Linked DNA regions of Homo sapiens: regions 2, 3, 4, 5, 6 and 7 are each reported to be linked to region 1. Evidence: microRNA targets listed by miRTarBase, many of them from high-throughput screens and not tested one by one. Region 1 holds a microRNA gene; each other region holds the end of a gene's coding sequence.
What was found. The annotated mature microRNA hsa-miR-302a-3p reads UAAGUGCUUCCAUGUUUUGGUGA and lies in region 1 at 1,179-1,201, shown strand. An mRNA with a match to its seed (bases 2 to 7 or 8) in the 3' UTR can be bound and repressed. Matches are read on the target gene's strand: a 7mer-m8 pairs with bases 2 to 8, a 7mer-A1 pairs with bases 2 to 7 and ends in A, and an 8mer does both.

Region 1 (4,000 bases):
TCTAAAGACATTTAGCAAAATAAGCTAAGGGAGTTCCTCTTCCCCCAATATTCAGATTAAATGTTTTAAGATTGCCAATTAAATTTTTGAGTGTCTGAAGTATTTTAATTTATAAAAGTAAAATTTTAGCATTAATTCCTTAACTAGTAACATTTACTAAATCAGTCATCTCTGTGGGAAAAGGGCGAGATTAAAGATTTGTTAAACTGCTTCCAATTTGAGAGATAACATTCCTTAGTATTTACTTGAATCAAAAAGAATTTCTAAGTAGAACAAAACACCCCGTGGAAGCAATCTATTTATTTACATACATTTAACATGTAGATGCTTCTTCAAACAGAGTTCCTCCAGATAGAAACACAATGCCTTTCTCGGCTCAGTGGGAGCACTCATTGTTACCCTAATCTATGCCATCAAACAAGCAGATAGGAGATTTTCTTTTTCTTTTTCTTTTTTTTTTTTAAGAGGAAGATATCTTGTGGTAATGGTTTTAGCTGTTAACATTGACATCTGTATACTTCAAAAAAAAAAAAAAGGATCCAGACCCACCCAGGATCATACATTCCCTGAGAGCTGATACATTAAAATAACAAAAGGCCCTTGTAATGATTCTCTGAGATAAAAAGGCAAAAGGAATTCAAGAGTTAAGAATAGTATAAATAGAAGTGGCTGAAGTCCCTGCCTTTTACCCTTCTGGAGGAGAACACGAATCTTTGGGAACTAGTTCAGGAAGGTAAAAAAATTTTTTTCTTCTAAAGTTATGCCATTTTGTTTTCTTTCTCCTCAGCTCTAAATACTCTGAAGTCCAAAGAAGTTGTATGTTGGGTGGGCTCCCTTCAACTTTAACATGGAAGTGCTTTCTGTGACTTTAAAAGTAAGTGCTTCCATGTTTTAGTAGGAGTGAATCCAATTTACTTCTCCAAAATAGAACACGCTAACCTCATTTGAAGGGATCCCCTTTGCTTTAACATGGGGGTACCTGCTGTGTGAAACAAAAGTAAGTGCTTCCATGTTTCAGTGGAGGTGTCTCCAAGCCAGCACACCTTTTGTTACAAAATTTTTTTGTTATTGTGTTTTAAGGTTACTAAGCTTGTTACAGGTTAAAGGATTCTAACTTTTTCCAAGACTGGGCTCCCCACCACTTAAACGTGGATGTACTTGCTTTGAAACTAAAGAAGTAAGTGCTTCCATGTTTTGGTGATGGTAAGTCTTCCTTTTACATTTTTATTATTTTTTTAGAAAATAACTTTATTGTATTGACCGCAGCTCATATATTTAAGCTTTATTTTGTATTTTTACATCTGTTAAGGGGCCCCCTCTACTTTAACATGGAGGCACTTGCTGTGACATGACAAAAATAAGTGCTTCCATGTTTGAGTGTGGTGGTTCCTACCTAATCAGCAATTGCGTTAACGCCCACACTGTGTGCAGTTCTTGGCTACAGGCCATTACTGTTGCTAATATGCAACTCTGTTGAATATAAATTGGAATTGCACTTTAGCAATGGTGATGGATTGTTAAGCCAATGACAGAATTTAAACCACAGACTTACTTTGATAGCACTCTTAATGGTATAACTTCTTCTCCCATTTTATGTCTCTCTTTATGTTTTTTCTTATGTTTCCTTTTTGTTTTCAAGAGAGAGCTATCTTTTAGATCTCCAGTATCCTTTTCCTCTTCAGTAGAGATTTCTATATCTTGAAATAAATAAAAAAGCTCTCCGTTAAGACATGGGGCTGTGAAATGGGTGAAACAGAAGCCAATTAAAACCTAATTAATTAAAAACTAATTAATTAAAATTAATTAGTTTTATCTAATTAAAACCTTGTAGTTTTACCTCTATTTTCCTTGGAAGCTTCTGATGCTTCCTTAATGATGTCTTTCTGAATAATTTTCTTTACTTTTGATCGGGGAGCTAGGGATTCTGCATCTTCAGAGCTGCTTCTCTTCCTCTTCCCTGTTCTGACTTCAGGTAAGCTAGATGCTTCAACTCTGTCCCGTTTTTTCTTTTTCTTTGAGCACTGCTTTTGGGGTTCAGTGGACTCAATGTCAGAGCCCTCAGATGTGGGTCTGGATCTTTTCATTTTACTGATGCTGGTGTTGCTTGTGTCCATGTTTTCTTCTTTGGCTTGGATATTGTCTTCCTTTTTCATTCGGCCTTTCTTCTTCTTTTTCTTTTTCTTCTCTTCTGTAAAAGTGCCATCATTATTAGTTCATCTTACTTCAACTACACCTATTTAAATATTGAAAAATACTCACCCACAACTCTTAAGGCTGGAATGGGCTTATTTTTCACTGTTTTAGGAAATATGCCAGGTTTTCTTGGTGCTTCTTCTGGTGGGTTGTTAAGAAACTGAAATGATTGCAAAAGTTACTATTTTAATACTTGTTTTCTTTTCTTTCTTTTTTTTTTTTTAGGATCTGGACTTACCTCAATTGCTTTTGCTGCTTGTTCTTTTGTTTCAAATTCCACAAACGCAAATCCCTTTGGATCTCCAGTAGACTTATAATGTGGTATACTTATATAAACAACATTGCCACATTTCCCAAATACTCTTTCAATCCAGCTGTGATTAACATTTTTGGGAAGTAACTCCTATTATAAATTAAAAGCAATATTAGAGTTTTTCACAATCAGAATGTCAATAAATTTTTAACTTAATTATATTGTTTCTGTGCCAGTTTCTGACTGGGGACCCGGGTTCTTAAGCTTACCACATACACTGTGCGTTCATCCTCATCCTTTGGTCTTTCCCCCAGAGGTTTTTTCCTCCGGATTCTGGTGCCTTCCAAATCAAGCTTTAAAATAGTATATTACATTAATAAAACTAATATTATTTATAATTGTAAGCTATAATCATATAATAATCATTACGTTAACATTCTTTATAATTATAAACTATAAATATAAACAGTAGTTATTCTTGATTCTTACCTCTACAACAGCTGAACTTCTCAATGCTCTGGCAATTAACTTCCCATCAGTAGTCAATTTTTTCATTTTGTTAAAAGACACAAGTAGTGATATATCAACATCTAAAGAAAATGAAAAAGTTAATATGTTAGTGTATCAGCAGGATTAATTCAATTTGGTACAATTTAACCTGCCCCTCAGGCCCTCAGGCTCGGTGGCTCATGCCTGTAATCCTAGTACTTTGGGAGGCCAAGGCGGGTGGATGGGGGAGTTCAAGACCAGCCTGGCCAACATAGTGAAACCCCATCTCTACTAAAAATACAAAGAATTAGCTGGGTGTAGTGGTGCACGCCTGTAATCCCAGCTACTCGAGAGTGAGGTAGGAGAATCGCTTGAACCCAGGAGGCAGAGGTTGCAGTGAGCTGAGATCACTCCAGCCTGGGAGAAAGAGACTCAAACAAAACAAACAAAAAAAAACTGTATGAGGGTCTAAATGGCATTGCATATTTGGCGACCTAAAATGACACATTTTAGTGTATGTAACTGCAGATTAAGATTTGAACACAAATTATTAGCAATACCCAGACATTCAAAGAGGACATCTGGATCCCATCCTATTAGAAACAAGCACAAGGTTGGCTATTTGAAATTTAGCAACTGGGGATGGTGGCTCAATGCTTCTTATCTCAGCAATTCAGGGGTGAAGGTAAATCTCTTGAGCTCAGGAGCTCAAGACCAGCCTGGGCAACATGGTGGGACCCCATATCTCTTAAAAATGCCAGAAAAAAAAGCCGGCCTGGTGATGCTTGCCTGTGTTCTCAGCTACTGGGGAGGCTGATGGAGGATCGCTTGGGTGGGGCTGAGGGGGTGGAGGTGGGGGCAGAAGTTGGAGTGAGCAGACATGGAGCCAGTGCATTCCTGCCTAGGGAAAAAAGATAGACCTTGCCTCAAAAAAATGAAACAAAAAATAACATTGAGCTAGGTGAAATGCCTTCTTGTATGAACTAAAGTATAGCACTCTCGAGTTACACATGATGAATGGTTATTGAAGCAATTAAATCCCAAAATACTTAAAAGCTTTGATTT
Region 2 (4,078 bases), not on the chromosome of region 1:
CTTTCCATTCTCAGAGTAGATAATGCGGCAGTTCTATCTATAAATGCCGTACGTTTCAGTTATGGGAATATACCATTTCCTTGGGCTTTTTCTTCTGCTTTTCTTTCTGCCATAAAGTGATGTGATGATCGTCATAAGAGGTTATCTCTCATTACTAATTAGAAAAACCTCAAAAACACACGTGCCTTTCTGACAGGTTACTGGCTTCAGCTTTATTTATATGAAAGACAAGTTTCTGACAAGGCTCACACACATGAAATATTATCTTTCTTGCGCTTTCCTTTGTTGTGAATGTTGTGGAAATGCCCAATGTTTGCGGATTACACGTTGAAAGGATTGCATAAAGAATGCCAGATTTCTTGAGCATGAATGGCATGTATAGCTATGAAACAGGGGCTTTTCTTTGGAGCAAGGGAGACTTGTAATAAAGCCTTTTCATGCTTATTCTTAGGATCCTAGTTCAGTTTCTGGGAAAACACCAGTCATACTCTATTACTAAAGCATAGCTAGGTCATTTGGAAACTGTAAACAGTAATACATTGCTTAATATGAAATAATGGTTCATTTCCTCCACTGGCCTCCTAGAGGCTTAGAAAACTCTTATACAGAATATGGTTCTCCTACTAACTAGCTTCTTATCTTGTTTTTCACAGTTATACACTGAAGTGTCAAACACAGTCAGATTTTGGGAAAGTGACAATGCAATTTGAATTAGAAGTGTGCCAGCTTCAAAAACCCGATGTGGTGGGTATCAGGAGGCAGCGGCTTAAGGGCGATGCCTGGGTTTACAAAAGATTAGTGGAAGACATCCTATCTAGCTGCAAGGTATAATTGATGGATTCTTCCATCCTGCCGGATGAGTGTGGGTGTGATACAGCCTACATAAAGACTGTTATGATCGCTTTGATTTTAAAGTTCATTGGAACTACCAACTTGTTTCTAAAGAGCTATCTTAAGACCAATATCTCTTTGTTTTTAAACAAAAGATATTATTTTGTGTATGAATCTAAATCAAGCCCATCTGTCATTATGTTACTGTCTTTTTTAATCATGTGGTTTTGTATATTAATAATTGTTGACTTTCTTAGATTCACTTCCATATGTGAATGTAAGCTCTTAACTATGTCTCTTTGTAATGTGTAATTTCTTTCTGAAATAAAACCATTTGTGAATATAGCAGGCTTCTCTTTTTTGTATTTGATTTTGATCCAAATAAAACCTCAAATGGCTTCCTGACTATTAAGTAGAGACTATTTGGAGTATGTTTTATCTGTTATCAAATATGCCTTGGGCAGAAAAACAGATAAGAATTCATTTGCATAATTTTTTCCTGTCTGATTTAAGTAGGATTTATTGAGATCGTTAACTGTCACAGCTGTGGTTACCAGAGTTAAACAACACATTTAATATGTTGAATAAAAGAGTATTGACTTTAAGTATGTTTGGTCAACAAATGATAAGTATCCGAACTATGAACCCCCCCTGAAATGTTACTTTATGGTAATTTCCCTAAGTCTCAATGTTGGCCCCAAATTTGTATTTTTATTTCATTTTATTGGTCTCCAAAGGCTAGAACTCAAGTTATATTGGTATGGATTTCACCAATTAAACTAGTTGGAGAAAAAATAGCACTCCTTCTGGTCAGTAGTGAAGGGAATGTTTTGTCATTCATTTATTCAATAAATGTTTACTAAGTGCTTACAAGCATTAGGTCCTCAGGCTGAAGCTGCTACTGTCTAGTAAACCCAAGGATTTACTAACTGTATTTGTAGCATAGCGGGACCCACCCACTTTGCATGGAATTAGAAATGAATTCTTGGAAGAAACAGCATTTGTCATTGAAGGATATATAGGAGTTCAGCAGAAAGAGAAGAGTGAGGAGTATGACTTTTTTTCTTTCTTTCTTTCTTTTTTTTTTGAGACGCAGTCTCACTCTGTCACCCAGGCTGGAGTGCAGTAGCGTGATCTCAGCTCACTGCAGCCTCGACCTCCTGGGCTCAAGCAGTCTTCCCGGTTCAGCCTCCCAAGTAGCTGGTACTACAAGCGTGCGCCACCACACCCAGCAAATTTTTTTACTTTTTGTACAGACAGGGTCTCACTATGCTGCCCAGGCTGATCTCAAAACTCTTGATCTCAAGCAGTCCTCCCACTTCAGCCCTCCAGAGTGCTGGGATTACAGGCATGAGCCACCACCCCAGCTTGGGACATGACATTTTTGAGAGAACAATATGTGCAAAGACAGGGAATTATAAAATGTCATTATGTGTTTGGGGTAGAAGCAGAAGGTAGTGGAAGCGGGAAATGACAGTAGATGAGGATTGAAAGTTTAGATGGAAATAAGTCATGAAAGTACTTGAATGCCCCATTAAAATAAGTGTTTTGGCAAAGGAGAGCTGTCAAAGGGTTTTTAATATTTTAACAACAGCTTTGTTACGATGTAATTCATATATCATAAGATTTACCCCTTTAAAGTGTGTACAATTCAGTGGGGGTTTAAGAGTGTATTCAGGTCGGGCGCCATGGCTTATCCCTGTAATCTCAGCACTTTGAGAGGCCGAGGTGGGTGGATCACCTGAGGTCAGGAGTTTGAGACCAGCCTGGCCAACATGGTGAAACCCCGTCTCTACTAAGAACACAAAAAAGTAGCTAGGTATGGTGGCATGTGGCTGTAATCCCACCTACTTGGGAGGCAGAGACAGGAGAATCACTTGAATCTGAGAGGTGGAAGTTGCAGTGAGCCGAGATTGTGCCACTGCACTCCAGCCTGGGTGACAGAGTGAAACTCCATCTCAAAAAAATAAATAAAATAAAAGTATATTCATAGTTGTGCAACCATCACCACAATGTAATTTTAGAACATTTTTATCATGTCAAAAAGAAGCCCCATACCTGTTACCGGTCACTCCCCATACCCCACCCCCCAGCCCCTGGCCACCACTTACCTACTTTCTGTTTCTATGAATTTGACTGGTGTATGTCATATAAATGGAATCATGCAATGTAAGACCTTTGGGGTTTAGTTATTTTTACGTAGCATAACATTTTCAAGATTTATAATGTAGCATATATCAGTACTTCATTTGATAACTGAATAATATTCCACTGTATGGATATGTGACATTTTATTTATCACTTGATAGACGTTTGGATTGTTTCCACTTGGCTATTATGAATGCTGCTGTGAATGCTTATATACAAGTTTTGTGTGGACATGTTTTCATTTCTCTTGTATATATACCTAGGAGCAGAATTGCTGGGTCATTTAACATTTTGAGGAACTATCAAACTGTTTTTCCAAAGCCACTGCACCATTTTATGATCCTGCCAGTGATGTACGAGGGTTCTAACTTTTCCACATTCTGTCAAACACTTGTTATCTGTTTTTTTAATTTTAGTCATCCTAGTGGGTGTAAAGTGGTATGGCATTGTGGTTTTGATTGTCTTTTCCGTGATGATTAATGATGTAGAGCAGTTTTTAATATGCTTTTGGCCATTTGTATATCTTTCTTGGAGAAATGTCTGTTCAGATCCTTTGCACATTTTAAATTGGGTTATGTTTTTATTGTTGAATTGTAAGAGTTCTTTATATATTCTAGGTATGTCTGTTACCAGCTATATGATAATATATATAATATATGATATGCAAATGTTTTTTCCATTATGTGGGCTTTTTAACTTTCTTGATAGTGTATTTTGAAGAACAAAAGTTTTCAATTTTCTGAAGTCCAATTTACCTATTTTTATAAAATATAGAGGTATGATTAATCTTCTATCCCTATGGGAAGTGGCGTGGTTTGAAACAATGATTCTCAAAAGTTTTTGACCCTAGCCACAGCAAGAAACAAGTACACATGATGGAAGCACTTGTAGTGTGTTAGTAGTATCTATCTCATTTGCTTTTAATTTACGTTTCCCTAATGACTTTGGGATCCATCACATATAAACATATATGAAGCACTGCTTAGCCTTACTGTAAGTGACAACATATTCTATTTTCTCTTATAAACATCTAGTCTGACAATTGTAATCTTTAAATTAGAGTTCTTTAGCACATTTACTTTAAAATCCTTTTGGGGGA
Region 3 (4,078 bases), not on the chromosome of region 1:
AGGAAACACACCCTCACTCCTTTCCTATAGCGGAGCTCTGTCCCCTGCAGCACTCCAGGGAGTGTGTTGGGAAACCACTCTGAGATCCAGTGCCACCCACCTCTTCACTGGCATCTGTCCCCACCTCCACAACCTGTGCATCCCTCCACCTCAGAACCGCCCTTAGGGCCCGCCCCCGCCCCCATCAGGTCACACTGTTTCCCAATCCAAGTCCTTGTTCCCTTTGCTCATCCATTGAGGTTCATCCCAGGGAGAACCTTCTCTTCCCACAAAACCTTGCCTGACCTTGGTGTCCACTGTGCCACCAAATTGCACTGGATGGCCCTCCTGTGGCCCCTCCTTCCCAGGACGTGTTAGTGAAGCTCCTGATTCGATGGTCAGTTTCTCCAGCACCGTGAGCTCCCCGAGGATAGGCACTGTCTGTGCTCCTCCAGTGCCCGGCACGCAGTAACCATTCTATTTACTCGATGAAGGACGTGCCCATGCAGAACCCCCAGTAAGAGCTTGCAGGACGTAGGAAGGGAGGCAGCTCCTTTTTCGAGGAGGCTGGAGGCCTGTGTGGGAGGGGGAGCTGTACTTTCCTGGGTTAGCAGTGACCTGTGACTCTCCCCTTCCCACTGTGGGTCCTGCCTCTAATGCAGGCCCCTCAGCGTTGGTGCCAGGCCCTTGTTATCCCACTGGGATATCGGGAATGGATGAAGGGGCAGTGGATTTCAAAGTATTTCTTTTTTTCTTTAGATGCAAGATGTTGCCCCCAACCCAGATGACCCGGAAGATTTCCCTGCGCTGTCTTGAAAGAGCCCTGTTTCCCAGCACCGCGGAGCTGCACTGCACACCTGTGGGGAGACTTTTCCAGCTGGGCCAAGGGAGTCAGACTCTAAGAACAATAGATGTTGCTTTTCCCGTGTCATGTAAATTTGTTGCACTTTTTTGGGCTGAGCTGTTAGAGGGGCTTCTCCAGAGGCTCGAGAGCAGGCCATTTCCCAAGAAGATGAAGAATGGTGACTGTGTTTTTATTGAAGGAATTTCAAATGAAGAATAATGTTTAAAATGTGTATATAGAGATAGTATAGACTCCTCCGCGGAAGCATGGAGGGAAAGGAGGTTGTAAAATAGACTCCATGGAGACTCTTAGGAAGCAGTAGATTCCCGGGGGCTGTGCCTTTAGCGTTAGAGGAAACACATAGAGCTGGAACTGTTAATGGAAAGCAGTCACAGCTGAGTTTTCGGAGACCAAGAAATTAAAATACAATTGCACTTACTGTTTACTTGTAAATGTTATCTTCTCTCCTGGAATATTTTGAGTTCTGGTTTTCACTTAACCAATCATTTAAAAATCGCTATTGTGTAGCCACTGGCCACCACTCTGTGACACAGAATCAGAGAAAGCGTTGATTTTTAATGGTGATTTAAACTACCTCGTGGTTTCTGTGTGTGTGCACACACACATCTAGTGTTTGGGTGGTTTTTAGGAAGAATATTAAGTATGTGACTTCAAAAACCATGTTATTTAACCTGCCAATCAAATGGAAAGGGATCATGGCAAAAGCAAATACCGCATCCTTTTCTTCCGCAGAACTAGAGTCAGAGTTCGGCAGCTGCGTACAAAGGCCTCTGCCCTCGGCTTGAGCAAAAGTTGTAAATAACTAGTATTTATTAAGCACTTATAAGCAGTTTTTCTCACTTAGTCCTGGCTCCAGTTCTAGAGTTCCTCTTTATTGCTTTTGGTGAAAGTTTGGGGTTGGGGGTACACCTCAGAGGTTCAGTAATTCACCTGGAGTCCCACCCTGAACAGAGCTGGACCCAGAGCCACACACGCCCGGGAACACACACTGTGCTGGGGAGGAAGTGGGCCTAGGAGGGCCTGCAGGTCCAGGCAGCTGTAGAGCTGCTAGAAGCTGGGGTGTTGCTCTCCCCGCTTTCTCATAGACACAGAGGTACTGTCTGCCTGTTGTCACACAGTTCATATGCTCGCTTGAGATGGAATCTGAACCTTGGTCCCAGGATCTGTGCTTTTTCCCACTTTGCCACACTGTCTAAGGTGGCTTTGAACTGGAACCCAAGTGCAAATAAAGGTTGGTATTCGCTCCTGACTTTGTGTAGAGAAAACAGTCCTTTGGTTACTCCAGGCCACAGCAGTCGGTCATGATTTTGTTGAATAATCAAAGTTGAATCCATACACGTTAGGGTCAGTTAAGGATGTTTGCTTTGGGTGATAGCCTACTTTTGGTCTCTTATTTATTATCTGAGTACTAAGGTTTATCAACTGAGTGTTTTCTTCCCTTTCCTGGAAAAGGCAATGGATGCAAGTGCCCTGATTTCTGAAATCTGAACCTAGCCGGTACAACATCAGGGCTGTGTCATGAGTCAGTGGCTTTGAAGCTGTCACACTGTCATTTTGCCTAACTGCGGCTTTGAAGATTAGCCAGAGAGCCCTTTGAAGAAACTTTCCTTTAGTGTTGTGAATAATACTTGAAAAGCCCACAGCACTTGGTTTAATGTTGCAGTTGCAAAAACACTGACAGTTCCTATCCCATAGAGCTGTTGAGTCATGTGGTTGAAGACAGTTTTGGGGAACCCGGTGCACGTTCTGAACCTGTAATGGGCTATGTTTGCTTACCAGGGCTAGCTCTCGCTGACTTGGTCGTGTGCCTGGATGTAGGCATTTTGTTTGCACCCTTTCTGGATCGTGCCAGGTTGTACATAGCCCCAAGTGCCCCAGAGAAGCCAGGGAGGACAGAAGCGAAGGGCAGGGGGGTGTCACCAGCATGCCGTTGGGACAGTCAGATGCGGAGGCGGCAGGACCTTTTGGACCACAGTGCCCCGGCCGGACTCCTCAGGTGCTTGTGACGTGGGTGTGGACATGTCCTGAGGCAGGGCACCCTGGGCACCACGTTTCTGGCTGGCGACTTAGACTCAAGCAGATTAACCCCATGAAAGACGCCGATGAGGGCTGTCGTCCCCAAGTCTCCTGAAAAGTGGAGGTCAAGCAAGTTTGAGCTGGTTATAGCCAAGCCCAGGCTGGACTGGATCATGTCTGAATCAGGAGTTGACTGCTAGGCCTCAGGGGTGTCTGAGTTGTGCCACCAGGGCGGCTCCTGAAGACTCAGCTCAGGGTGAGGTCCTGGGGCTGCTGCGCACAGCCTGTCACCAGGTGGGGAAAGCTGCCCTGCAGTAACTGGGCTGGGGGGCCAGATCCTCTAGAGATAGGGGTGCTTGGCTGGGTGCGGTGGCTGACACCTGTAATCCCAGCACTTTGGGAGGCCAAGGCAGGCAGATCACTTGAGGTCAGGAGTTCGAGACCAGCCTGGCCAACATGGTGAAACCCTGTCTCTACTAAAAATACAGAAATTAGCCGGGCGTGGTGGCAGACGCCTATAATCCCAGCTACTCAGGAGGCTGAGGCAGGAGAGTCGCTTGAACCTGGGAGAAGGAGGTTGCAGTGAGCCTAGATCGCGCCACTGCACTCCAGCCTGGACAACAAGAGCAAGACTCTGTCTTTGGAAGAAAAAAAAATTTTTTTAAAAAGGGAGGTGCTGCCCAAGAGGGAGGGGTCAGTACCTAACTTGGGATGAAAGCCTAAGCTGCATGTCAGACCAGCCTGGGAAGAGGCAGGCTGGACACACTGCTGCCGGCTGGGAATGCCTCCGAAGTCAGAGTTGGATGCTTTGAACAAGACCCCTCTAGCCTAATGTTGCTCATGAGCCTTTGGCGTTTTCATTCCACGCAAGGTGGGCCCCTCTGAGCCAGCCAGCCTCCTTCCTTGTGCTGGTCAGACTTCAGACCATTTCCTTCTGTTGATCAGCAAGTCCATGCCATTCCAGCACATGGGAGCTTCACGGGAAGGAGACTGCTGTCCTCTGAAACTGTACTGTGCGGTGCTGGCAGGTGCTTCGGAGCAGCTGAGCCTGCGTCTCCGAAGCTGGGAAAGGCAGAACAGGAGCTGCCCGTGCCTGCCCTGTTCTCAGCAGCAGTGGGCCTGCCTGCTCTCTCCACATGGCGGCCTCCGCTGTAGACACAGAAGACAGATTTGCTCATTTTCTTTGGCTGCTGCTGTCTCCTCTCAGCCTTCTGCAAG
Region 4 (4,078 bases), not on the chromosome of region 1:
GGAGACATGGCACCCGTCACTGTGGGTGGCAAGATAGTGGGCTCTCTGTGTGCCATTGCGGGCGTGCTGACTATTTCCCTGCCAGTGCCCGTCATTGTCTCCAATTTCAGCTACTTTTATCACCGGGAGACAGAGGGCGAAGAGGCTGGGATGTTCAGCCATGTGGACATGCAGCCTTGTGGCCCACTGGAGGGCAAGGCCAATGGGGGGCTGGTGGACGGGGAGGTACCTGAGCTACCACCTCCACTCTGGGCACCCCCAGGGAAACACCTGGTCACCGAAGTGTGAGGAACAGTTGAGGTCTGCAGGACCTCACACCTCCCTAGAGGGAGGGAGGGAGGGCAGGGTGGAGGGCAAGGCTGGGGGGAGGGGATTGGGTTTAGGAAGAGCTAGGTTAAGTCGTAACGAGTGGGGAAACACTGAGTCTTGTTGGGTCTTGGGTTGTGTGGTTTGGTAGCTCCTGTGGGTACCTCCTGAAGCAGCAGCGAATGGCAATGGGTTGTGTTGTGTTAATGAAGACTCAATTGGTTCATATTACTCTGAGTTGTGCAAAGCTCATGGAGCCTTTTGGGGTAGTGTTGAGATAGGTTTGGTCGTATCATTTTGTGAGTTTCCTAGGTCAGTGTTGGGTTTGGTTGGGTTGTGAGTCTGGGATAGTGTGGTCCAGCTGCATTGTGTAGGATTCTGTGGTTTGGTGGGTCCCCTAGGGCCATGTTGGGTCAAGTTAGATGGTCCCCCATGGCATTGTTGAGATCGAATGTGTGTGGTGTTAAGTTTCGTTGAGACATGGTGGAAATTGTGTAGCTCTGTGATTCTTCCAGGGGCATGTTATTTTAGGTTCTGTGAACTTGCGAGTCATGTAGAAATGTGAAGAGTCCAGTGGTAGAATTTGAGCTTTCTAGGTCACATTGGGTTAAGTTTGTATGACCAAATGAATCTTGTAGGGTTCTGTTGGGCTTAACTGTGTAGAGGTGTGTGGCTGGACATTTTTCGTGGCCACAGCGAGTTGAGTTGTGTTGAATTGTACAACCATATGAGCCTTGTAAGGCCAGTTCAGTTGGGTCATGCCACTGTTTGAGTCTCATAGGGCCATGCTGAATTGAGTTCCATTGAGTTGTGTCACTATGTGAGTCCTACAGGAAGTTGGGTTGAGTTGGACTGTGCGAACGAGTTCCATAGGGCCACATCGGGCTGTTTTGCATTTAGTGGTAGCACCAGGACCCAAAGGAAATAGCAGTGGGGAAGCATCATGTATCTGGGAGCATGCAGTGGCGAGGGCTCTGGGAGGTGTGCCGAGCTGGCTCCCCAGCTCGCTGTAGGGGGCGGGACTGGATTCTGTATCCATGGGATTGGGTGTTCATCCAGAGGCGACTGGGTAAATTAGGAAGAGGTGGATGCTCCTCCTGTTTACCCCACATCCACTTCATTGTGCTGTTCACTCCCATTCTCCCCTACAGTTTTATGCTCAGACATGGAGGTCAGAGCCACAAGGGAAAGGGGAGAGGGGGAGAAAACTGTACTCTGTCCAGACATGATAGAGGGACAGAGCCAAAAGGATAGAGAAAGAGACCCAGAAAAAGGAAGAGGTGGAAACCCAGAGAGACAGAGACCCAAAGGGAGAGAAACAGAGACTCAGGGAGAGGGAGACAATGACCTGGAGGGTGGGGTATGGCAGAGACGCAGAAGAGAGGAACAGAAATCCAGAGTGGGGAGACAGAGACCAAGAGCAGGGGATAGAAGCCGGGCGAAGTGGCCCATGCCTGTAATCTCAGCACTCTGGGAGACCGAGGAAGGGGGATTGATTGAGGCCAGGAGTTCAAGACCAGCCTGGGCAACATGGTGAGACCCCATCTCTACAAAAAATACAAAAATTAGCTGAGTGTGGTGGCACATGCCTGTGATCCCAGCTACTCAGGAAGCTGAGGCAGAAAGATCCCTTGACCCTGAGAGGTAGAGGCTGCATTGAGCCATGATTGCACCACTGCACTCCAGCCTGGGCAACAGAGGGAGCCCCCGTCTCAACAAACAAACAAAAAGAGCCAGTGGGGGAGGGAGGGACAGAGACCCAGAGGGCAGCGTCAGACACCCAGAGTTGGAGACAGAACAACAGAGTCTCAGGGAAAGAGAACCACAATAGAAAAAGGCAGAAAAGGCCGGGCGCGGTGGCTCATGCCTGTAACCCCAGCACTTTGGGAGGCCGAGGTGGGCAAATTACGAGGTCAGGAGATCCAGACCATCCTGGCTAACACGGTGAAACCCCGTCTCTACTAAAAATACAAAAAAATTAGCCGGGTGCGGTGGCGGGCACCTGTAGTCCCAGCTACTCGGGAGGCTGAGGCAGGAGAATGGCATGAACCTGGGAGGCGGAGCTTGCAGTGAGCCGAGATTGCGCCACTGCACTCCAGCCTGGGCAGCAGAGCAACACTCTGTCTCAAAAAAAAAAAGAAAAGAAAAGAAAAAGCCAGAAAAAGTTGGTGCCCCTGAACCCAAGAGTGATGTACAGTCTATTCCATAGAATCACAGAACAATCCTGAACCAGGCCTGTCACCTACCCTCCCTGCAGCTCAGGAAGGCTGTCAGACAGGCTGGGGGCCTCACTCTGTTTTCCAGGGGAGAAACCTGAGTCTCAGAGCAGGGGAGTGGCTTCCCAAGGTCTCACAGCTTGTCCCCAGGGGCCAGGCAGGCTGTCTGTCTGCTTCACATGTCCCCATCAGCCTGCTGGGACACACGGGTCCTCCTGAGTCCCGTAGCCTCATTTCTTACAGACGGGGAAACTGAGGCTCAGAGCAGCAGGTGTTACCCAAGGTCACAAGGCCGAACATTTTCAGAAATCTTTCAGAACTCAAAGGGCATTTAGAGGAAGAAGGCTGAAATCACTAACACATATAGGGCTTCCTTTGGTATCAAAGTACTTTACTTGGGTTAATTTATTAAAACCTATCCAGTGGTTTACAGACTGTTGTTGTTATTTTTAGCCATACCCACCCCTTTTTTGGGTCAAATAAATCTTCCTTAGAGACACCAGTGGGAAGCATGGGAAGGGAACTGGTTGGAGGAGAACACGCCTCCTCTTGGCAACTCAAAATGCAGCTCAGGAATTCAGTGTGGAAACCCCTGGTTTCATCTGAGCACCTTTTCATACAGCTAAAGAGAAGGTACAGATGGTGAGAGGAGTTTGATAATGGTTGAAATTAATAGAAGCTTTAGGTAGTCACTTCTCTCTGAAATGGAGAGAAAGCCAGATTTAGGGACAGAATGGAGACGGACCTCACAGTGACAAGAGACAGGTTGGACTCCAGCACAGAGACCTAAAGAGGAGACACAGACAGGAACTGAGGCCAGGAGGGAGGAGAGGCACAGAGCAAAAGAGAGAAATCCAAGGGCAAGGGGGAAGAGGGCAGATGGCCGGGAGCGGGAACAGAGACCCCCACGAGGGGAAAGAGAAGCAGACAGTGACCCCAAGAGAGAGGATGCAAGAGGCTCAGCAAGAAGGAGACTGGGACCCAGAGAGGGTGGACAGATATCCAGAGAGAAGAAAACTGGGACCTAGAAAGAGGGGGACAGAGACCCAGAGAGAAGGGGGGACAGAGACCTGGGGGGGAACAGAGACCCAGAGAGAGGGGGGACAGAGATCCAGAGACAGAGAGAGAGACAGAGACCCAGAGAGTGAAGGGGACAGAGACCCAGAGAGAGAGGGGGACAGAGACCCAGAGAGAGAGGGACAGAGACCCACAGACAGAAGGGGACAGAGACCCAGAGAGAGAGGGGGACAGAGACCCAGAGAGAGAGGGACAGAGACCCAGAGAGAGAGGGGGACAGAGACTCAGAGAGAGAAGGACAGACCCAGAGTTGGAGGGAGACAGAAATCCAGAGGGAGGGGAACAGAGACCTGGAGATAGGGGGACAGAGACTGTTTCCCAGTCACTCTGTTTGGAAACCTCATCCCTACTATCCCCTCCAGGACTAGAAGCTAGAAGCTAGAAGCTAGAGTCCTCCTGCTATGCGGCAGGATGTATTGGCTGTTTAGGAACAGGGGAAGGGTGGAGAAGCCGGAGAGGTGACCTGAATGCACACCCAA
Region 5 (4,078 bases), not on the chromosome of region 1:
GGTGGCAGGCACCTGTAGTCCCAGCTACTTGGGAGGCTGAGGCAGGAGAATCATTTCAACCCGGGCGGCAGAGGTTGCAGTGAGCTGAGAGCGCACCACTGCACTCCAGCCTGGGTGACAGAGCGAGACTCTGTCTCTAAATAAATAAATAAATAAAATAATAGCACTTAGCTGCTGTGGAAAACTATATGACGGTTCTTTGAAAACTTAAACATAGAATTACCATAGGATCCCTCAATTCCACTTCTGGGAATATACCCAACAGCATGAAAACAGGGACCTGACCAGATATTTGTACAGTCATGCTCATAGCAGCATCGTTCACCATAGCCAAATGGTGGAGGCAACCCAGGTGTCCATTGACAGATGAACGGATAAGCAAAATGGTACGTGTACCCACAGGGAATATTATTCCGCCTTAAAAGAGGAAGGAAATTCTGACCCATGCTGTAACAAGGATGAACCTTAAGGACATTCTGCTAAGTGAAATAAGCCCGTCACAAAAGGACACATGCTGTATGATTCCGTTCATGTGAGGTTCTTACGGTGGTCAAATTTATAAAGATAAGGAGCAGAGTGTTGGTTGTCAAGGGCTGGGGGAGGGAGAATGAGCAGTTCATGTTTACTGGGTACAAAGTGTCAGTTTTGCAAGAGAAGAGTTCTGTGGATGATGGTGGTTGTGCAACAATGTGAATGTAATTCCACGAAACTGTTCACCTAAAAATGGTTAAAAAGGCAATTTTAGGTTATGAATATCTTACAGTTAAAATCTTTAATTAAAGTCCTTTCAAAGCCCAACCTTTGCAGAAAAAAAATTATAGCACCTGAGCCCTTTTTGGTTTGCAGAACATTTTCACACACATAGTCATACATGCTTCAACGACGGCCCTGTGATAAAAACATTTATTAATTTGGCTTCCCAGAGGAGAAAACTAAGGTTCAAATGGGGTGAAACGGCCAGGTGTGGTGGCTCATGCCTGTAATCCCAGCATTTTGGGAAGCCGAGGCAGGTGGATCTCCTGAGGTCAGGAGTTCGAGACCACCCTGGCCAACATGGCAAAACCCCATCTCAACTAAAAATACAAAAATTAGCCAGGTGTGGTAGTGCACGCCTGTAGTCTCAGCTACTCAGAAGGCTGAGGCACGAGAATCACTTGAACCTGGGAGGCACAGGTTGCAGTGAGTCAAGATCGCTCCACTGCTCTCCAGCCTGGGTGACAGGGACTCTGTCTCAGAAAAAAAAAAAAAAAAATCCAGGTGTGGTGGCTCACGCCTGTAATCCCAACACTTTGGAGGTCAGGAGTTTCAGATCAGCCTGACCAACATGGTGAAACCCTGTCTCTACTAAAAATACAAAAAAATTAGTCAGGCATGGTGGCGGGCACCTGTAATCCCAGCTACTCGGGAGGCTGAGACAGAAGAATAGCTTGAACCTGGGAGGCGGAGGTTGCAGTGAGCTGAGATTGAGCCACTGCATTCCGGCCTGGGTGACAGAGTGAGACTCCATCTCAGGGAAAAAAAAAAAAAAAAGATTCTGACAAAATGCCATGAAGATCGTTTGTAGATCTTGTCTTGCTAAAGTGGAGTTGGATTCAGAGGGTTGGGGGCGGGGTCTGAAATAGTTTCTAAGCAGTTCTCACGTGGAGCCAACGCTTCTGGTGCAAGGACCGCCATCCAGCAGCAAAGATCCAGTGTACTTTACTTAACAGACAAGGAAGCTAGCCGGGAAGGGAGTGACTTGCCCAGGGTGACAGGGCAGGGTGGCACATAGGAAGCTAAGGGCCAGGGAATGTGCATGCAGCTGTTTTGCCAAAAATCGGTCACCTTCTTAAGCTGACCCAGATAGTGTCCACTTTTTTAAATTTTTTTATTTATTTATTTTGAGACAGAGTCTCACTCTCGCCCAGGCTAGAGTGCAGTGGCACAATCTTAGCTCACTGCAACCTCTGCCTCCCGGGTTCAAGCGATTCTCCTGCCTCAGCCTCCTGAGTAGCTGGGATTACAGGCACACACCACCACGCCCGGCTAATTTTTTTTGTATTTTTAGTAGAGATGTTGGCCAGGCTGGTCTTGAACTCCTGACCTCAGGTGATCCCCCTGCCTCAGCCTCCCAAAGTGCTGGGATTACAGGCGTGAGCCACCGTGCTCGGCCTTGAACCAAGGTTTCTAAGATGCTCTTAGCCTCCTTGGATCTGGCCTAGCCCACCTTTCCATCTTAGCTTTTCTGCACAACCGCCCACAGCTAGCTCAGCCTACGCCTCAGCCAATCTGGTTCCCGACGATGCAGAGCCGGCATTGGCTGCAGAAGCCAGGCCTAGTCCTGTCCAGGGCCCCCTGGCCGCAGACAAATGCTACAGACACGGCTCGTAGCACATGGTTCTCTTTATTGTGATGCTCAGTGGAAAACATCTGTAAACCAGCTTACTGTAGTGGTGACAGCTGCAACACATGCTAAGGCACTTTTATTATATAAAAAAGGGGGTAGGGTGGGAGTTTCACTCACTCCTTTGTGACAGCAACTGGGACCTGAATTCAGAGCTTTGTAGGCATATGCAGCTTTTATATCACTTCATGATTTGAGAGTTTGTTTCCTTTAAAAAAAAAAAATGCCTTCTTGCCGTAAGTCTCAATGCAGCATATACAAAACAGTTAGGAATACAAGTAAATTCGGCAACCAGTGTAGACCAGTGAGGACGAGCTACTCTCTTCTAAACAAAGGCAGTGAGAAAGACTCGGAATTTTATCATTTATTACAAGAAAGGGGAAAAAAGAAAACCTTATTTTGCTTTCAAAAATACCTGTGCAGGTGGCAGATTTTTAAACTATACTGAGTCAACGGTGCAGGTAAACCACCCTCGGGCCCAGTCCTAGAGTAGACACAAGATCGCCTGGGAGGGCCGCTGGCCCCTCTAACGCTCTGGCTGTCAGACTTGGGACAAGTCCCTTAACCATTAAATATATTTGGTCCCCAAGAGTGTTGGGAGAAGCCACTGGAAGGCTGCTGGCCTTTCCAGCTTGACCCCGACAGCCTTGCTGTGGCAGAGGCAGGCTGTCCTCGGTAAAGGAGGGGAGGGGGCATTGCACTTGAGACATTTTAGAATCAGGAGGGAGACAGCGGACAGTGGCGCTGCCTGGGACAGGGTGGGGAGGAATCCACTCCTCCCCCCACCCCAGCCTTCTGTGCCCTGCACAGAGGTGGAGGCCCAGGGCCTGCTCCTTCTGGACCGCCCAGAGCCATGGGAGTGGGAGGCCCAAGGGGCAGAGGTGTGTGAGGTCACCACGTGTGATTGCAAACAGCAAAGAAAGGAGGAGGAGTGGGGGCGCTGGTGGCAGACGTCAGGGAGGCTGACGACTGCGGGGGCTCCGACTACCAAAAGGCCTCAGTCTGAAGAAAAATAGATTCATAGAAAACTCTGGCCCCTCCCCGGGGGCCTGCCCTGCTCGCCTCAACATCTTGTGCTTTTTGGCAAGAGAGGGCTGAGGAGCCTGCTGGTCGCTCTCTGCCTGGGCCCGGGCCCTGTCTCTTTGGTATCAGATTCTGAGCAGGGGAGGGAGCTGGAAGGGGATGCAGCAGAGGAAGCCAAATGCCCTCAACAACACCTGGAGGGAAACGGGATGGGGGGACGGGGCGGAGGGCAGGAGGAGGCATGTTCACAGCAGTCCCAAGAAGGTGGGGAGAGGCGTGCTGCGGGGTCTGGGAAGGGGAGGCTGTGGTGTCTGTCTGTCCATCCATCTCAGGCTGCAGGAGAAGAGGCTTATTCGGCAGGTTTGGCCTCAGCCCCATCCGCTTTGCCATCTACCTCTTCGTCGGAGCCATCCCCGGCGCCTTTCCGGGCCATTCGGCGGGGCACGACAAACGGCAGGTCCCCGCGCCTGGGGGCAGAGGTAGAAGCAGAGGGTCAGCGGGCCCGGCCAGGCCAGGGGCGGCCACAGCACAGCCCACACATCTCAAAGTGAATTCGAGAGGGAAACCAGGTGCCTGGCTGCTCCCACCAGAAAGAAGCAAAGTGGAGTCTTGGGAGCCACAGCTGAGCTAGACAGGACCACTCTCAGGAAAGCAGGCAAAGCTTCCCGCAAA
Region 6 (4,078 bases), not on the chromosome of region 1:
AATAAATCATGTAGGCAAACAGGAGAGCATAACCTGCTGCTTTATAAGAATTATATTTACAGTGTTATGTTTCCACAGGTATAGGTGTTTGTTAGGCCAAAAAATATGAGAAAGATATCGTTTCACTTCCAGTTATGTGCAAATTTCGAGTAGCAAACCTGACAGTTATGTTAAAGCAGAATTTACTGCTGGACTAGGAATACACAAACAAAACTCCACTTCGAAGACCAAGCCATGCTGAGTCCCTTGGGAGCTACTGTTTTTTTTCAAGGTATGCTGTTGCATTACAACAGCTGGGGCATCCTCCAGAGTGTTCACAAACTTCCAGCTTGGTGCTCATTTGGATGTGTCTGGACACAGCACTTACATTGAGGGCATGAATTCAGCTTGAAGTGACTGAAACACGGGCAACTGATGCTCAGAGTCAAAGGGAGTATCACTTTGGATACCTTTTCCATCGCACCTAAAATTCAGCATACACTGAAGGAAAAAATAATCATCCTGAGCCTTTTTAGAAGACACCCAAGTCACAAATTTAAGAAGTTATGGATATAATGGATATGCTAGAATATTCCTCTAAAGAAGAAGAGTAACAAAGATAATTACTGTTTTTTTCTCCCCATGGAATACTGAACCTCTGCCCTAAGATAGGAAAACTACAGTTGTTCTAATATTACACAAACAAGTGCAGTATTCCTAACTGTAAGAAGTGATCTGTAAGATTTGCATTTCACTGAAAAACACAACAACAGGCACTTAATTCAACTCTCAGTCAAGTTTTCTGGTCAGTAAATTTAAAAACATTGGTTTTTCTTCTGTTGCCGGTGAGATTTTGCCATCATGAAAAGTATTCAGGTCGCGCACGGTGGCTCACGCCTGTAATCCCAGCACTTTGGGAGGCCGAGGTGGGCGGATCACGAGGTCAGGAGTTTGAGACCAGCCTGGCCAATATGATGAAACCCCGTCTCTACTAAAAACACAAAAATTAGCTGGGCGTGGTGGTGTGTGCCTGTAGTCCCAGCTACTTGGAAGTCTGAGGCACGAGAATCGCTTGAACCTGGGAGGCAGAGGTTGCAGTGAGCCAAGAGCAAGCCACTGCACTCCAGCCTGGGGGACAGAGCGAGACTCTGTCTTGGTGGCAGCAGGGTGGGGGGTGGGGGGGAGACATATTCTCCTTACAGGAAATCCATTTATAACAGTTATCAGTCACCTAAGATTAGTGAACTTTATCTCAAAAAATATCTTTCAATTAAATTCTCCAAGATAAAAAGGAACCAATGTAGGCTGGGTGCAGTGGCTCACACCTGTAATCCCAGCACTTTTGGAGGCTGAGGTGGGCGGATCACGAGGTCAGGAGATCAAGACCATCCTGGCTAACACGGTGAAACCCTGTCTCTACTAAAAATACAAAAAGAAATTAGCCGGGCGCGGTGGCGGGCACCTGTATAGTCCCAGCTACTCAGGAGGCTGAGGTAGGAGAATGGTGTGAACCTGGGAGGCAGAGCTTGCAGTGAGCCAAGATCGCGCCACTGCACTCCAGCCTGGGCGACAGAGCAAGAATCCATCTCAAAAAAAAAAAAAAAAAAAAAAGGAAGCAATGTAATAAGGTAATTCTTAAGACACTTGTTTTTTATCATCTATTCCCACAGGCAGTCACACACATACAGGGCATACTAACCAAATGTCACCCTGAAGATTCAGGGTGGAGGAATTACTCAGCACAGTGGAGGAGTTAGAAAATAAGTTGCTGGTGAGATCAATTTTGATCGAAGAGAATGAGATGAGAAAAAATTGAATAACAGATGACTATCCTCTCCCTCTGCTCTGCGAGCTGGAGTCTACCTGCCAGCTTTTCTATGTACCAACGTAAGTACCCACCAAAAACTGCTTCACACACACACACACACACACACACATATACACGAAAATTGGTTTGTTATGGAAACCCATACTCACAACAGAAAACTAAAAAAGGACCTAGCCTTATTTTTCCTTCAAACAGCTGCTCTCGGGGCCAAAACCATGCTTCCTGAAAATGAAGGGTAATAAACAAGATAAATGCAGCCCAGAGGATGCCAACACAAAACCCAGACAGACATATTACAGAGAAACAGGGCAGCCTTATAAAAAAAAAAACCAAAACTGGATCATCTTACATGATAATCCAATAGTCCCACTTCAATTAATTATATGTAAATTTCTCGGACAAGTTATTCCAAAAACAGGACCAGAGGAACAGGGAACAGAAATAAGGAGTAATGGAGCTGGTGAAGGCTGCAGGGAAGGGGAAAGGACAAAGCAGGACCTCCTGGAAGGGGAAAGGGAAGCTCCGGTTAAACATATAAAGAATAGGCCAGGCTTGGTGGCTCATGCCTGTAATCCCAGTACTTTGAGAGGCTGAGGTGGATGGTCAGGAGTTCGAGACCAGCCTGGCCAACATGGTGAAACCCTGTCTCTACTAAAAATACAAAAATTAGCCGGGCATGGTGGCGGGTGCCTGTAATCCCAACTACTTGGGAGGCTGAGGCAGGAGAATCACTTGAACCTGGGAGACAGAGGTTGCAGTGAGCCGAGATCGTGCCACTGCACTCCACCCTGGGTGATAAGAGCAAGACTCCATCTCAAAACAAACAAACAAACAAACATATAAAGAAAGAATAAACCCAAGGCCGGGCACAGTGGCTCACGCCTGTAATCCCAGCACTTTGGGAGGCCAAGGCAGACGTATCACCTGAGGTCAGGAGTTCAAGACCAGCCTGGCCAACGTGGTGAAACCCTGTCTCTACTAAAAATACAAAAATTAGCCAGGCGTGGTGGCGGGCACCTGTAATCCCAGCTACTTGGGAGGCTGATGTGGGAGGATCACTGGAACCTGGGAGGCGGAGGTTGCAGTGAGCGGAGATAGTGCCACTGTACTCCAGCCTCCACTACAACAGCAAGACTCTGTCTCAAAAAAAAAAAAAAAAAAAGAATAAACCCAAAAGAAAACCCTGTTAGATTTAAGAAACACACCAGTACCCTTTTAACAGATATGACAAAAAGGAAATGTTCCTGCTTTTCTCTTGGGAATTAGGGGGCAGGAGAAATGAGGGCTCACCTCCCTCTTCTTCCATCATGGAAGTTGGCTCCCCAAGCTCAAGTGTGCCTCCTGTGAGTTCCAGCAAGCAGTCTGCAATGACAGCCACAAAAATGTCTTGGCAGTAGAGCTAATCTAGCAATGGTGTGGAAAATAAACACACAGGGCAATTGAAACCAGAATCCAGAGTCCTTGATTCAACTGTTTACTAATCAGAAAGGTCGGTATAGTCGGTCCTTTTTCTACTGCTGGCAAGTGATTTTTGTATATTTTATTACAAATAAAACAATATTGCTTGACAGCATCATCTGTCATCTTACAAATATACAACTACACAGTCCTAAAGTAATAGTATGTCTCTAGAACTGAGCTTTTCTTAAAAACAAACAATAACTATACTATTATTAAGTCCTGCACCCTAAATCTATACAGCAGCTTTAATCAATGTGGAAATGAAATTATGATTTATTAATTTACATAAAATTACTTTATACATTAAAGAATAATTTTTCAAATTGTTAAAAAAACAAAGTCTGAAGCTGTCATTATTGGGATTCGTGGGACGTGGTTTGCTCTTCTATCACCTGCTTCACAATTTCTGCCAGTTTTAGTCGATCTACTTTATCTGTGAATCCACGACCTGAAAGCAAAAAAAGAACAAGGTCAGTCCTCAAATTCTTTGAGAGGTGGCAGACTCTTGACAGAGACCCAATAAGGTCCACCTTACCAGTATCAAATTCACCCTCACCAGTGGGGGAACCACCCCCACCACTGATCAAAAGCAGTTCAGATCCCCCATTTTTCAGGTAGCAATTGTACAGTTCCACTAACCTGGCAGTAAAAATCCAAAGCTCACAACACACAAGCAAACCACAAAGAGAGACAAGATCTTTGTAATACATACAGCTGACAAAAGACTCATATCCAGAATATATAAAGAATTCCTATACATCTATAAGAAAAACACAACTCAGTGAAAAAAAATGGGCAAAAGACTTGAAT
Region 7 (4,067 bases), not on the chromosome of region 1:
AACTATATAGTGAAGGAATAGGACAACACCTTGACCAGATGACCAAAATTGACATCACCTTGGTGTGACGGCCTTTGTGTGCCTCCAGATGTGATATCCTGTGAGGAACTTAACATCAACCAGCACCTGAATCTAATCACAAGAAAATATCAAATAAATTTAAAACAAGGACCATTCTATTATTTAAAAAAAGAAGAAGAAAACAGAAAGGAGGCAAAATGACTGTATTATTTAAAAATGTCAATGTCATAAAAGACAAAGAAAGCCAGTGAAAATGTTCTAGACTAAAAGAAGCTAAAGGCAGACCGGTGCAGTGGCTCACGTCTATAATCCCAGTGCTTTGGGAGGCCAAGGAAGGAGGATTGCTTCAGCCTAGGAGTTCAAGACCAGCCTGGGCAACATAGTGAGACCTTGTCTCTACAAAAAAAAAAAAAAAAAAAAATTAGGTGTGGTGACATGAGTCTGTGGTCCCAGCTACTCAGGAGGCTGAGGAGGAAGGATTGCTTGAGCCAGGTTGAGGCTGCAGTGAGCTGTGATCATGCCACTGGACGACAGAGTGAGACCTATCTCAAAAAAAAAAAAAAAAAAGAAAAAGCTGGATTCAAGACAAGTAAATGTAATGCTGGACCCTAGACTGGACCTGGGATTATAGGGTAGTGGGAGAACTTCTTTACAGGACATTATTGGGTCAGCTGACAAAACTGTAATACAAATGATAGATTCAAGTATATCAATGTTAAATTTACTTAAGTCAATAACTATACTGAAGCATTTCGGGGTAAAGGGCCATGGTGTGTTGTGTTTGTGTGTGTGTGTGTGTGTGTGTGTGTGTGTGTGTGTGTGTGTGTATTTTATATATATATACTTTTCCCAGTAAAAAGTTTAAAGAAAAATTAAGAGTTCTTGCCTACACTGAAGCTCTTGGCCATCTATTTTCTCTCCATGATACTCCAAATACAACACAGGAAGAGATGGTTGTGCCAAGTAACAAGAAAGCACAAAGATATTTTAACATGATCTTTTATCAGTGATTGAAGCCTACCAAAGCATTACATACCACCCATTCTCCACAGTTTGTTGCAAAGACCAGCAAACACTGGATAACTCTAGCAGCTTCTAAATGTAATCATTTCCCCCTAATTTCTCTCAACAGGGCAGTGATTCTAAAACCTTTTTGTATCTCACCACTTTCAGAACTATTTTGTACACAAAACAAGTCTTTCAGCTGGTGTCTTGGACAGGCACTATCAGTATCAATCAATGGAATTCAAGCTGTTGAACTAGGACATCTTAATATTTTAACCCGTGTCTAAGTAGCTGGGGAATGTGGTACTCAGGAAGCTGAATGACCTCAACATATATCCATAATTCCTCACTGTCACTTGGAAATTGCTAGCAGAATTCCATAGAGCTAATGTCTATGACACCCTCAGTGGTCCTGCCCTCCAATCTGCAGTATGCCATATTAATGATTTTCTCCCAAAGCGATGGAGGGAACTGTGCCCCAGTCCAAACATTTAGGACAGATTTTCGATAGGTTAATTACTGAAGAGGGAACCAAAAAGATGGTAAACCACAATTAAATTGTTCAGCTATGCTTCAGAATCAGGAAACACTACTTATCCATCATTCTCCAAAACAGCAAAGACGGAACATATGTATATTGTTAAGTCTTTTCTATCCTTCCCTGTCTATCACTTTATTATTTCCTTCATTCTTTTAGTAGCGACAGTCTCTGGGCTAGAATGCTCATATACTATTTTCGGCTTTGGCTTTTTGTCCTAGATAGTCTTCTTATTCACTTTTCCCCAAATTTCAATCAGTAATTTCATTTAGCAAATGTTTACCAAGAACCTACTGGACATAAGATGCTCAGCCAGACTTACTGGGTGGTACTCTAGAGAGGCAAAACTCCAGGTTGGTTGTCCTACAAATAATCCCCAAGAAAATGATATGAACACAATAAATGCAATGAAATCTGCTTGCAGGAAAGCATAAGAAGCCAGAAATGAATTACGACCAACTGCAAAAAGGAACAAACTAGTAGAAGCACTAAAATTCAATGAGAAGATAATTTTTAAAGTGGATGAAATTGAAGGTGCATGTAACATTATCACAGATTTAAAATCATGCATATTCTCCATAAAACTTTTCAAATGCAGTTAAACACACACACACACACACACACACACACACACACACACAAAACCAAGCAATTATAAGTCCTCTGAAGCATGTAACTGTGATTAGCTGCTACTCTCAGCAATATAAAAATACTTTCACCACAATTACATTCCAGCCTGTAATGTAATTCAAAACAAACAAGTCAGAGACATCGCTCAAATGACAGAACCAACAAATACAGATGCTTTGCATCAAGGAAATGAATCTACTGAAGAAATGCAACTGAGGAGCAGCAGCCCCTCCAGGGCCTGGAGCTGAGCTTCTGGTGGAACGGCGAGGCCCCCTTCTGGGCAGAGGCACACAGTGCGCCCAGAGGGCTGTGCAAAGCTGCCCTGTAGTCATGGAGGTGAACTGGGGACTTCCTGCTGTGGATACCCTTTCCAGTGTTGTGTTCAAAATTTTACATTTTAGATTTTAAATTTATTATATGGATTATAAAAGAAATAACCATTTGTTTCAGATTAAATTGATCATTCTATTTTTCAGTCAGCATTCTCACCACCAAATGGCACCTATCCCCTTTACCCTGTGTTCCTTTTGCTTTTTGCCATAACTCTTATTGTCCTCCAATAAACTGTGTAATCTATCATATCCATCTCCCCTTGCTAGAATATAAGCTCCATGAGGGTGGGATAATTTGGTTTTTTGCTCAATAACAATTGTCCCATTTATGTCTTTATCTTTTAAGACTATTCATCTTCAAATAAGACATAAATAAGGTTTTATTATAGCAATATGCTATAATTTTTAAGTGACAACTCAAGCACTTGTTTTAAAAGTATGCATTTTTTCTAAATGCTTTATAAAAGCAAAGTCTTTTCTAAGGACCATATAATTATGGTCTCTATATACACAACTTATATACAATTTAGAGAGAAGTCACAGCCCCCAGTGCCCTGGAAGAACATCGTAGCTGCAAAAAATGAAGAATCTGATTCTGAAATGCCAGTCCTGGAGAAGGTGTTCTCAGGGTGGCAAACTGCAGTCCAAACACACTCCAGGTCCCTGGGTCTGGCCACACATTCTCTAAGAAGTCAGCACTTGCCTGGACTGGGCACTTGTGGCTAGAAGGGTATGCACTACTTGCTAATTTCTAAAACCTCAAACCTTAATTTTCCCCCATCTTAAAATGGGAATCAGCTTCTGGAAAAGCTAATAACTGTTTACAATTGTCAGACTTCTAAAAAGTGCTAATTTGTTCCCTTAACAGAGCAAATGATGAGAGACACCATTTTCCTGCAGATTAAAAACAATATATAAACATATGATTCAACGATGTCAACAGCTTTCAGTCTATGAATCTTGTCCAGGTCACTTTGGGTCACTTGGTTCTTTCATCAGAACATGTTCAAGATTTCTGACATTCCTTTTTCCGAACTTTCGATTTTGGTGCTGTGAAAAGAATAGAAAAGAAAAAGAAAATGAAGAGGTAAGCTCATAGCAGATTCTCTTTGTATGGATTTAAGGGAAGGACATTATCCACAACAGAAAACTGACCATTTGGATTTTCTTGTTTGTAGAAGGTCTTTAACATTTCCACTGCTTCCTCAGCCCGATATCCAGGGATACACTGATGGAATGAGAAAGTTGAGAATAAACATAGGCCTATGAAAATGTGTGCTGTATCCCATAAAAACAACATATATATACATGATTATGTAAACAGATTTCAGATGTTAATAAACTTTGGGGATATTAGTAACATGGGTAAGGAGGTACACTTCCAAAAGATGTTTGATATATCATCTTTTTCATTACTCCCAATCAACTGTTATTAGGCATCACTCCCAATCAACTGTTATTCATCCATTAACTATTATAGAAGTTACCAGCTTTGTGATCTTGGGTTAGGCACTTAAACTCTCCATGCCTTATTTATACAA

Region 2: miRTarBase lists MELK as a target of hsa-miR-302a-3p. The part of its 3' UTR that is shown has no 7-base or 8-base seed match.
Region 3: the mRNA of HABP4 is a reported target of hsa-miR-302a-3p. Seed matches in the 3' UTR shown: 7mer-A1 at 1,255-1,261 and 8mer at 1,660-1,667.
Region 4: the mRNA of KCNA7 is a reported target of hsa-miR-302a-3p. Seed matches in the 3' UTR shown: 7mer-m8 at 2,184-2,190.
Region 5: miRTarBase lists MYH9 as a target of hsa-miR-302a-3p. The part of its 3' UTR that is shown has no 7-base or 8-base seed match.
Region 6: miRTarBase lists MAPKAPK5 as a target of hsa-miR-302a-3p. The part of its 3' UTR that is shown has no 7-base or 8-base seed match.
Region 7: miRTarBase lists ADAT2 as a target of hsa-miR-302a-3p. Seed matches in the 3' UTR shown: 7mer-m8 at 3,370-3,376.

Annotation. Positions count from the first base shown.
Region 1 is chr4:112,645,387-112,649,386 of GRCh38, reverse strand. It overlaps MIR302A (microRNA 302a), which reads left to right and starts at 1,136; the gene lies at 1,136-1,204. It overlaps LARP7 (La ribonucleoprotein 7, transcriptional regulator), which reads right to left. Exons shown (of 13, transcript NM_016648.4): 3 at 2,936-3,036; 4 at 2,716-2,799; 5 at 2,432-2,596; 6 at 2,260-2,353; 7 at 1,838-2,188; 8 at 1,553-1,697. It overlaps MIR302CHG (miR-302/367 cluster host gene), which reads left to right. Exons shown (of 3, transcript NR_146092.1): 2 at 788-874; 3 at 2,419-2,667. MIR367 (microRNA 367) reads left to right here and starts at 1,446; the gene lies at 1,446-1,513. It also overlaps MIR302D, MIR302C and MIR302B. RefSeq lists an enhancer at 1-516.
Region 2 is chr9:36,676,507-36,680,584 of GRCh38, forward strand. It overlaps MELK (maternal embryonic leucine zipper kinase), which reads left to right. Exons shown (of 18, transcript NM_014791.4): 18 at 654-1,176. The coding sequence ends at 831. Among named protein-coding and RNA genes, the nearest start is that of MELK, 110 kb to the left of the region's middle.
Region 3 is chr9:96,489,244-96,493,321 of GRCh38, forward strand. It overlaps HABP4 (hyaluronan binding protein 4), which reads left to right. Exons shown (of 8, transcript NM_014282.4): 8 at 739-2,093. The coding sequence ends at 795. It also overlaps a transcript of CDC14B not described here. Among named protein-coding and RNA genes, the nearest start is that of HABP4, 41 kb to the left of the region's middle.
Region 4 is chr19:49,066,273-49,070,350 of GRCh38, reverse strand. KCNA7 (potassium voltage-gated channel subfamily A member 7) reads left to right here. Exons shown (of 2, transcript NM_031886.3): 2 at 1-2,954. The coding sequence ends at 288. Among named protein-coding and RNA genes, the nearest start is that of NTF4, 3.5 kb to the right of the region's middle.
Region 5 is chr22:36,278,913-36,282,990 of GRCh38, forward strand. MYH9 (myosin heavy chain 9) reads right to left here. Exons shown (of 41, transcript NM_002473.6): 41 at 2,368-3,873. The coding sequence ends at 3,756. Among named protein-coding and RNA genes, the nearest start is that of MIR6819, 6.0 kb to the right of the region's middle.
Region 6 is chr12:111,892,605-111,896,682 of GRCh38, reverse strand. It overlaps MAPKAPK5 (MAPK activated protein kinase 5), which reads right to left. Exons shown (of 14, transcript NM_003668.4): 14 at 1-3,716. The coding sequence ends at 3,622. Among named protein-coding and RNA genes, the nearest start is that of MAPKAPK5-AS1, 52 kb to the right of the region's middle.
Region 7 is chr6:143,424,931-143,428,997 of GRCh38, forward strand. ADAT2 (adenosine deaminase tRNA specific 2) reads right to left here. Exons shown (of 6, transcript NM_182503.3): 5 at 3,682-3,754; 6 at 1-3,576. The coding sequence ends at 3,533. Among named protein-coding and RNA genes, the nearest start is that of ADAT2, 24 kb to the right of the region's middle. RefSeq lists an enhancer at 2,539-2,608.